Regions from separate parts of the Homo sapiens genome. Here region 1 is linked to region 2. Evidence: fine-mapped expression QTL. A gene starts in region 2. The other region holds a variant in brackets. All regions are shown on one strand. Distances are between the middles of the regions.

Evidence for each region.
Region 1: its variant is fine-mapped to the expression of CADM4 in whole blood (TOPMed, PIP above 0.99).

What each region holds. Positions count from the first base shown.
Region 1 is chr19:43,698,305-43,703,671 of GRCh38, reverse strand. It overlaps the pseudogene LOC105372412. Among named protein-coding and RNA genes, the nearest start is that of IRGC, 15 kb to the left of the region's middle. RefSeq lists enhancers at 2,110-2,169, 2,260-2,309, 2,320-2,369, 2,728-3,228. The variant C/T (reference allele first, on the strand shown) is at 2,526.
Region 2 is chr19:43,637,359-43,642,696 of GRCh38, reverse strand. It overlaps CADM4 (cell adhesion molecule 4), which reads left to right and starts at 2,847. Exons shown (of 9, transcript NM_145296.2): 1 at 2,847-2,970. The coding sequence starts at 2,907. RefSeq lists a silencer at 2,824-2,963.

The DNA.
Region 1 (5,367 bases), 61 kb before region 2:
AGGCTGGAGTGCAGTGGCGCGATCGCAGCTCACGGCAGCCTCAACCTCCCAGGCTCAAGTGATCCTCCCACCTCAGCCTCCTGAGTAGCTGGGAACACTGGTGTGTGCCCCCACACCCAGGCTAATTTTTGATTTTTTTGTAGAGACAGGTGAACTAGTCACTTTTGATATGAGCTTTCTATGAAGGATTTAGAAGAATGTCACAGATCCATGGGTGAAGGGAGATCTCCCCTGAAGGATTAGGATATTCTAGGCCTTCTGCAAACAGGCAGGGATGGGTGTGGGTTATGCTAAGCTCTCAGTATGCTTTATTTTATTCCATCCTCCCTCCCAGAAAGGATGTGTCCGTCCTACAAGAGTCGAAAGCATGGGCTCTGATGCACAGGGAAGTATTTATGGGTGAAATATGATATCTGGGATTTGCTTTAAATGTCTCAGCACAAAAAGGAAAGAAGGGAAGAGGGAGGGAATATAGGAAGGCAAGAAGGGAGAAAGGAAGAAAGAAGTATGAAGGAGAGGAGGGAGAAAGAGAGAGAGGAGGAAAGAAGGGAGAAAGGAAGGAGGGAGAGAGAAAGAGCAAAGGAGGGAGGGTAAAAGCAAAGGAAAGGCCAGGAGCAGTGGCTCACGTTGTAATCCCAGCACTTTGGGAGGCCAAGGCGGGCGGGTCACTTGAGGTCAGGAATTCGAGACAGGCCTAGCCAACAAGGTGAAACCCCGTCTCTACTAAAAATACAAAAATCAGCTGGGCACGGTAATGCGTGCCTGTAATCCCAGCTACTCTGGAGGCTGAGGCAGGAGAATCGCTGGAACCTGGGTGGCGGAGGTTGCAGGGAGCCGAGATCACGCCACCGCACTCCAGCATGGGCAACAGAGCAAGAGACTCCATCTCAAAAAAAAAAAAGCAAAAGAGAGAGGTGAGGAGGGAGGAAGAGGGGAAGGTGTAGGAAAGGAGGAGGCAGGGAAGGGGGAAGGAAGAGAGAGATAATTTGGCAAAATGTGCATAATTTTGGACACTGAGAGATTGATACTGAAGGGTCATTTAATGACTGCTTCCAGCTGCAAACATCTCCTGGGCGCCTGCTATGGGCTCTGGGCTCAGTCACATTTTGGTCCCATCATAGATTGGGGTATCAGTCTGTCATAGATATTATACTATTTTCTCTACTTTTGTGTATATTTGGACATTTTCTTAATGTTTAAGGGGGGGAAATTTTATCTTCTAGAGTCAGACAGATGTGTGTTCAGTCCCAATGTTCTTCATACTAGCAGTCTCTTAGCCTCCTTCAGCCTCAGTTTCTTCCTCTATACAATGTGGATAAATAATAGCACAGTCCTCATGATTAACAACCTGAAGACATGACTATTTCAATTGGTTGAAAGCTTAGGGTGGGCCAAGCCTTGTGCTTAATGTACCTTACAATAACACCTTACAATATGGGAACACAAGGCTCAGAGATGTTATGAAACTTGTCCAAGACTACACTGCAGATAAATTGTGAATCCACACCACAAACCCAGGTCTGTTTGAGTCTAAAGATCTTTTATTTTTTTTCAATTTTTTTATTTTAATTTTTTTTTTTTTCCTGAGACGGAGTCTCACTTTGTCGCCCAGGCTGGAGTGCAGTGGCGCGATCTTGGCTCACTGCAAGCTCCACCTCCCAGGTTCACGCCATTCTCCTGCCTCAGCCTCCCGAGTAGCTGGGACTACAGGTGCCCACCACCACGCCTGGCTAATATTTTTTTTTTTTTGTATTTTTAGTAGAGACGGGGTTTCACCATGTTAGCCAGGATGGTCTTGATCTCCTGACCAGCTGGGACTACAGCTATACCTGTAGTCCACCACCATGCTAGGCTAACTTTTCAATGTTTTGTAGAGATGGGATCTTGCTATATTGCCCAGGCTGGTCTTGAACTCCTGGCCTCAAGCAATCCTCCTACCTCAGCCTCCCAAAATCACACTGTGATTACAGGCATGAACCACTGCGTCTGACCCACATTAACTGTTTCTTACTGCATCTGCCTTGGAGCCTTTGCCTTTCCAGTTCCCTCTGCCTGGAATGTCCTCCTCCCCCACCTCAGACAACTGCATGGCCTTCTCCCTTGCCCCACGTAGGTCTTTACTTCCTCAATTAGGTCTTTACTTACGTCACCTTACTGAGGCTCTTACTCACCATGTATAAGATCATATCTCTTTGGCAGCGTTCCCCATTCTCCTTCCCCGCACTGTTTCCTTCCTAGTACTCACTGATATGTGATGTACGATATGTGATATTTATTTATTATGTGTCTCCTCCACTAAAATACCACTTCCATAAGAGCACAGAATTTTGTCTGTATCGCCAGTGTCTCATTTACAAAAGAATACATAGCTTGTGACTGATAAAGATTTGTTAGATGAATGTTAAATGAATTGTTTCTATTCTTTCGGTTGGGCTTTCTGTTACTTTCAGTTTTTGTTTTTGAGACGGAGTCTCGCTTTGTTGCCCAGGCTGGAGTGCAGTGACGCAATCTCAGCTCACTGCAAC[C/T]TCCGCCTCCCAGGTTCAAGTGATTCTCCTGCCTCAGCTTCCTGAGTGACTGGGAACACAGGCACTCGCCACCATGCCCGGCTAAGTTTTTGTATTTTTAGTAGAGACGGGTTTCGTCCTATTGGCCAGGCTGGTCTCAAACTCCTGACCTCAAGTAATCTGCCGGCCTCGGCCTCCCAAAGTGCTGGGATTACAGGCGGGAGCCACTGCGCCTGGCGGGGGCGGTCTCTTTCAAGCCCCCTAGAGCCACGCCGCCTAATCTGTCTGGTGCATGGCCTGGAGTGATTTCTTAGGTAGCCCTCCCTCCCACTGTCATAGCCCCCAGGCACTGGGATTACAGGCGTGAACCACTGCGCTCAGCCACTTTCAGCAGAAAGCAAATGGTTCCTGGCATTCTGCCTGTGGTGAGCAACCCAGTTTCACTTCTCCGCTCAATCCTCTGAGTTCAGTTCCAGATGCAGCATTTGGTCTTATGCCCACCCTGGCCAGACACTGTTGTCGGTTTGTCCCCTCCAGGTTCACCAGTTGAAGTAACTTAACCTCCCCTGGCCTCAGAGGAGAGAGGACCACATCAGGGCCCTCTTTGAGGCTAAAACTTCAGAAAAAGGAAACTCAAACCACTTGGCATTGTGAGATGTGATTCATTCAGATCTGGTTACAGCTGGGAGATTGGGCCCACACAGAAGAGGGGCTCCTCACCCCACCCATGCCCCCTGCCCCGTCTTGGCCCATGGTGGGGGTGGAGGAGGCTGCTCTGAAAACCTTGGAAGAGGGTGTATCGGATCCTCAAGCCCCGCCTTGGCTGCCCAGGATTTTGCTAGACCCCAAACAGGGAGAACAAAAGAGAAGTTGCTTGTCAATGTGTGGGAGAAGAGACACATCCCTGGTGTCTGGGAGCAGCCGGATATTGGGTATCCCCTCGTTTGAAGAAGGAGGCTTAGTAACTTGAGGAAGAAGAACAGCCCTCTTCTGAGGGAGGAGGTTTGGCCTTGGGGAAGGTGCTAATCTGAGGGGGGAGGTATAGCGCCCCGCCCCAACTTAGTTGAGCAGACGCCTGATCTCAGCAGCAGGTGAGTGGCCTTAGTCTGAGCGGGGAAGACACACCCTAGGCTGATGGAGGCATGGCCTTTGGGACCCTGGTGTGAGGAAAGAGGACTTAGCCTTGAGTAAGCCCTGAGTCTGGAGCAGAAGGTCTGGCTTTGGGAAACGCTAGTCTGAGGGAGGAAGCTCATCCCTGCTTCCTGAGTTTCTCACCAGAGGCTTCCAGGTCTCCGCATTGCCCCAGCAGAGGGGAGCCAGGGCACCATCTAGCGACGTGCCGAACAAGCAGGTGGAGGGGGCCTCCCGGGCGGCGGGGTGGTCCAGGCGGGATTCCTTAGCACAGCGTCGCGGTTGCCAGGACTACCACCAGAACCGGGAGGGAGAGGCGGAGGCCGGGCGCGGCGCCCGAGCGGCAGTGGGACTCTAGGACGGCGCGGCGGTGGGGGCTGCAGTGGCTCGACAGCCAGTGTCTTGGGAGCACAGAGAGCCCGTGGGTCCAGTCCAGGGCGCTGCACAGGTCTCGGGAGCCGCAGCCGCGTACGTTCACGTTCCGGCCGCCTGCCGAGACGGAGACAGGGTGCAAGGAGGGGACGTGGGGGCGCGCGCAGGCAGAAGGCCACCCCCGCGCGCACCCAAGCGCACACGCGCGCGCCTTGCACACGCACAGGGCCCGCGAGCCCCTCGAGTCCATGTCCTTCGTGAAAGCTCATCAGGAATGTTCTTTTCTTTGAGCTGGGAGCTGGTCACGGCTGTCTCTCTCTCGTTGTCACTCTTTCTACCTTACACGTATGTTACAGGTGTGTTTTCACTCGTGTGCAATGTTTGTTTCCTTTTTTAAAAACTTTTTTTAAAAAAATGAGACAGAGTCTCGCTCTGTCACCCAGGCTGGAGTGCAGTGGCACAATCACAGCTCACTGCAGCCTCGACCTCCTGGGCTCTGGTGATCCTCCCACCCCAGCCTCCTGAGTAGCTGCGACTGCAGGCCGTAGCACCAGGCCCAGCTAATTATTTTGAAAATTTTTTGTAGAGATAGGGTCTGCCTCTGTTGCCCAGGCTGGTCTCAAACTTCCAGGCTCAAGCGATCCTGGCCTCCTAGAGAGCTGGGATTACAGGTGTGAGCTACCACACCTGGCCCAGAAAATTTTAAATTACACACGTGTCTTACATTACATTTCTTTCAGAAAGCACTGATATAGTTTAGTGGATTATCTTATTCAATTCTCACAACAGTCTTAGGACTTAGCGACTGTTGTTATTCCCGTTTTGTTGTTGTTTTTTCTTTTTTTTTTTTTGAGACGAGGTTATGAAACTTGTCCAAGACTACACTGCAGATAAATTGTGAATCCACACCACAAACCCAGGTCTGTTTGAGTCCAAAGATCTTTTATTTTTTTCAGTTTTTTAATTTTATTTATTTTTTTTTTCTGAGACGGGATCTCGCTTTGTCGCCCAGGCTGGAGTGCAGTGGCGCCATCTCGGCTCACTGCAAGCTCCGCCTCCCGGGTTCACGCCATTCTCCTTCCTCAGCCTCCTGAGTAGCTGGGGCTACAGGCACCTGCCACCACGCCCGGCCAATTTTTTGTATTTTTAGTAGAGATGGGGTTTCACCATGTTAGCCAGGATGGTCTCGATCTCCTGACCTCGTGATCCGCCCGCCTTGGCCTCCCAAAGTGCTGGGATTACAGGTGTGAGCCACCACGTCCGGCCCTCCCCTGTTTTTTAAAGAACTTGTTGCATACCAAGTTATCCCCTTTTACAGATGGAGAAATTGAGGCACAGAGAGGCAAAGTCACCTGGTCAA
Region 2 (5,338 bases):
ACCAGGCAAGAGCTAGGTCTCCGAGTCTCACCAGGGACAGGCAACAATTGAAAAGCTGTGTGAAATAAAGGTTGTCTCTCTCTTGCAGAATCTTAATCACCCCAAATATGAATCTGGCCCCAGGGGTATCTGCCAGCCATCTTGCTACAGGAGGGGAGCCATGCATCCTTAGGACAGAGATTGACAGACCTCGCCAAAGCCAGCCATAGAAGGACTTTTTGTTATGTGTGAACCAGTTCTCTTTCTCTCAAACCAGTTGGGTTGCACTTGCTGTCACTTGCACTAAATCCCTAATGGACAGGGTACCCTGAAGTAGGATGGGGACAGGACCACTATTCTATTTATTATTATTATTATTATTATTATTATTATTATTATTATTATTTAGACTGAGTCTCATTCTGTCACCCAGGCTGGAGTGCAGTGGCATGATCTTAGCTCACTGCAACCTCTGCCTCCCAAGTTCAGGGGATTCTCATGCCTCAGCCTTCCGACCAGCTGGGATTACAGGCACGTGCCACCACGCCTTGCTAATTTTTTTTTTTTTTTTTGGTAAAGATGGTGTTTCACCATGTTGGCCGGTTGGTCAGGCTGGTCTCAAACTCCTGACCTCAAGTGATCGGCCCACCTTGGCCTCCCAAAGTGCTGGGATTACAGGTGTGAGCCAACGCGCCCGTCAGGACCACTACTCTTGTGATGTCTTCACATGGAATGGTGGGACTTAAGGATGACAGGTGAGAACCAAACCAACATCTCCCAAGGTTCCCCTTCAGCTGGAGCAGGAGACATCTGTCAGAGCACAGAGTGAGCGGGCCTATTGGCTCCTGCGGGAAAAGGCAACTACTAGTTACCCCTTGGACCAGTATTCCAAAGGCAGATCAAACATTCCTCTCCCATCTAGCAAAAGTCACAGAATGTGAGCCCTGGAAAGAGGATTAGAGACTATCTCTTCCCAAGTCTACAGAAGCTGGGAAGCTGAGGACTGAAAAAGAAGGAAGTTGCTCAGGGCTATGGATCTGGGGACACAGGGGCAGTTAGAAGCTTGGGCTCTCAGGACAGAGAGGATTGCTGGAGCCATCGTCCTGGGGACACAGGAGTTGATAGGAGCTTGGACCCTGAGGACAGAGAGGATGCTGGGAGCCATGGTCCTGCTTCACAGGGGTTGATGGGAGCTTGGACCTGAAGGACAGAGAGGATGCTGGGAGCCGTGGTCCTGAGGACACAGGAGTTGATGGGAGCTTGGACCCTGAGGACAGAGAAGACACTGGGAGCCATGGTCCTGGGACACAAGGGTTGATGGTAGCTATGGTTTTGAGGTCAGAAAGGATACTGGGAGCTGGGTACTGAGGACAGAAAGGGTGTGTGAAGCTGAAGTCCCTTGTGGGACTGGATGTAAAATTTTTTAGTCGGAATAAAAAGTAAGGATTTTCAGCCAGGCATGGTGGCTCACGCCTGTAATCCAGCACTTTGGGAGGCCAGACAGATGGATCACCTGAGGTAAGGAGTTCAAGACCAGCCTGGCCAGCATGGCAAAACTCCGTCTCTACTAAAAATATAAAAATTAGCTAGGCATGGTGGCGGGCGCCTGTAATCTCAGCTACTCGGGAGGCTGAGGCAGGAGAATCACTGGAACCTGGGAGGCAGAGGTTGCAGTGAGTCGAGATCGTGCCACTGCACTCCAGCCTGGGCAACAGAGCGAGACTCCGTCTGGGCGGGGAGGGGGGAGGGGGGAAGGAAAGATGTTCATAATTGGCACTTCTGGACCTCAGTTTGCCTGACAAATGGGCATGAGAGAGGTCGAGGCCTTCTTTCCATGGTTTCTCACTCTTTCTGGGTCCCATAGGTAATGATCCCGCATCAGGTCTACAGGGTGTCACAGAAGTGGGCTCAGGGAAACCCACTCCCAGGAGGGAGAAGGGACCTAAGTCTGGAGGGGTGAGTCACCCTCAAAGATGGGGAGAGAGGAAGGGCAGAGGCAAATACATGCAGAGAGAGGGAGAGAGGCTGGGGCAGGGAGACAGCAGGGAGGAGAGGGGACGCCAGGGCTTGGAAGGTGTTCACAGGAGCCTCTCCCTCCTGGGACCCAGGATTCAGGCTTCCTTCCAGTTAGTTCACTTTCAGGGGGCCCCTCCCGGAGAATGACGCGGAAACACGGGGTTTTCAGGTCAGGACAGGAGAGAGGGAGGGAGGGAACTGACCCCACCCCACTCCTGAGCCCCAGCCTCGCCCTGCCCTGGGAGATCCTTGACCTGCCTCGACCTCCGGACCCTCCGGACCTCCAGCTGCAGCCTCCCCTGTCCCGGTGGCTCAGCTCACAGCCTCTCGCTAGACTCCAGACACCCACCTGCCCGCAGCACGCCTCTCACACTCACCTTTCCCACGTCGCACTCCCTCCCTTACGCTCCCCCGTCACGCTGGCCACGCTCTCCCTTCGCACACACCGCACCCCACGACGCCCGCGCCCCCACCCTCGCACAGCCTCCAGCAACACCCTGCCACCCTCCCCTCCGCGCAGCGCAAGCACCCTGCATGCCAGCAACTCCGCACCCTCGCGCGCAGCACCTGGGCCCGCACGCAGCACCCTCACCCAACACCCTCCATTTCCCGCGCTCACCGAGATCCCCCACCTGCTCCCACGCCGCTGTCGCCCTCCCGCGCACCCCTTCCCGCCCTCCTCACCCCTCTCCTCTCCAGCTTTCGCACCCCGCACCGTTCCCCCACCGTGCCGTCCCCCCGATTGTCTCCGGGCCTCTCCTCCGTCTCCCCCTCCCCTCCCCGGCCCCGCCCCGGCCTCGGCGCCCCGCCCCCGGGCGGGCAGGGGGCGGGGCGCGGGGGGCGGGGCGGGCGGCGCGGGCGGTGCAGGTGCCGGGCCGGGAGCGAGCGGCGGCGGCGGCGGCGGCGGCACCATGGGCCGGGCCCGGCGCTTCCAGTGGCCGCTGCTGCTGCTGTGGGCGGCCGCGGCGGGGCCAGGTAGGGTCGGGGGCCGGGGTCGGCCGGCCGGGCTGGGGCGGGGGGCGCGCTGTGGTGACAGCCCGGCAGCCTCGGGGCCGCAGAGGCCGAACAATGCGCGCGGGGCCGGGCCGGGCCCCCTCCCCGGGACAAAGCGCAGCGCGGGCCGGGAGCCGGGAGCGACGAGCGGGGGAGGGGGCGCGGGGCCCGGCCGCCGTGCCGCAGCCCCCCCACCCGCGCAGGCTGGATCCCGGCGGGGACAAAGGGCCCGAGACCCCCCTACACACACAAGTCCGCCCTCCCCAGGCCGGTCCCGCTGTCCTTCTGTCCAGTCTCTGCGTCCCTCTGTCCGCCCGTCTCTGAACCCCCCCGTCTGGCTCCTCGTCCCCCTACCCTTGTCCTCTATCCCTCAGTCTCGAAGTCCTGTCCCTCCTTCTGTCTGTCTCCCTCTCTTCTTGCCTCGGTGTTCCTCATCTATTCTGTCTTTGTCCCCTACCTCTGTCCCCTGGTCTCTGTCCCCTTTTCCTGGGTCACTCTGTCCCCTCCATCATCCTGTCTATTCTCTTTCCCCCGGATTTCTGCCCTCCCTCTCTGCCCCTATTCTTGGTCCCTGTCTCTGTCTCGCTGTCACCCTTGTTTTTCTGTCCCTTTTTCTCTGTCCCCTATCTGCCCCATCCCCTTGTCTCTGTCCCCTGTCTTTCTGTCACTCGTTTCTCTAACCCTTTCTGTCACCTGTCTCTTTCCCCCTTCTCTGTCCCACTATCTCCATCCCTGTCTTTCTGCTGTGCCTCCTCTCTCTACGCTTACAGCCTCCATCCCGGGATCTCCCATTCCCATCCTACCTTCCTCCCTCTCTCTATCCCTCTGTGCCCCTGAAGAGGAATTCAGTCAGGCAGGGCATTCTAAAGAGCCCTGGAGGGGAACATCTGTGTGCATGTGTGTGGGGAAGTGAGAATGGGGGACCTTGGCGTGTAGGCACACACGTGGATTCAGCGAATGCCTCTCCAAACCCTGCTCACCCATTCACACACCCAGGCTTGACTCACAGAGAAGCCCCTGTCCAGGACATCCAGGGAGCCATCCACATACCCTCATCACACACTGTGAGAAGCTGGAGACCCCCGAGGTTGGGTGACCCTGAGAATGGGGACAAGGTCAGGAAATGTCACCCACACACACTCTCACACTGTGTAAGTCTTGAACCTGCCACGGGTCACCCCTCCCTGGTGGATAAGGCCACTTTTGGAAGGAACAGAGGATTGGAAGGTGGCTAGGCAGAAGCAGGAGGGCTGGGTGTTCGGCAGAGATTGGTGAGAGGAGTTATAACCAGGTGGCATGGGGCTGGCGGCCTGGGCTTAAATCTTGGCTCTTGCCATTTGCCATCGCAGCCAATGGTAAACACCTTCCTCTCTCCAGGCTTCTGTTTCTCTTTCTGTAAAGTGAGGATGTTGAACTCAGTGACATGAAAGGGAACGCCAGCTCAGACCGTGAAGGGGTTTCTGGCAAGTTGAGTGCGGTTACATGTTCCCCACTCCAGGGTTTGAGGCAGAGCCATCCTCACCTCGGCCAGGATGAGGGGCAAAGCTGTCCTCTCACTGTCTTTCTTTCTTCTCTAGTCTTCTGTGACTGCTTTAGAACTTGCATCATTACCTCCTTTCTTTACAACAGACATGCCACAATTTCCCAGATGAGAACTTTGGTACCTCAGTGACATTTCCATCAATTTTAATTTATCTTTATTTTTTAGGCTAAACACCAGGCTCATAGAATCCTGGAACTAATGAATCCAGTAAATAAAGAACCTGATGGTACTTTAGAATGCTGACATCTACAGGATTCTAGAATCCAGAAGGCTTTAGAATCTTGACACCTTTAAAGTTCTAGAACCGTGATGGTGTTAGCATGCTAGCATCTTGACGTCTTAAAAATCGTGAAATCTTGATGTCTTGGAGTTCCTGGATCTTGACATCTATGACATTTAGAATCCTGACAGCTTAGAATCATCAGACTTTGAATTCTCAGGATCAGAATATAGCTTAAGGTGACCACCCGCCCCGTGCAAAAGCCTTTCTCTGGTGCTTCTGGGAGTTAGGTCTACAGCCCTGTCCCTCGTTTGATTTCCAAGTCACTGCTTCCTGGCACCCTAACCCTCTCTGTAAACTTTCTCTAAAGTAAATAGTATGTGGCTTTTACCAGTAGAAACTGAGCTTGGTGTCATGGGAAGAGCTCTCAGCTGGGAGCTAAGGAACTTGGGTCCAAGCCTTACCCAGGACCCTTTAGTATAATTTTGCATCAGTCCTTGTCCCTCTCTGGGCCTTACTTTCCCGTTCTGTAAAGCATGGGGTAGGAGGCTGTAGCATGTGGTCTTGGAGGGCCCTTCCTGCTCTCC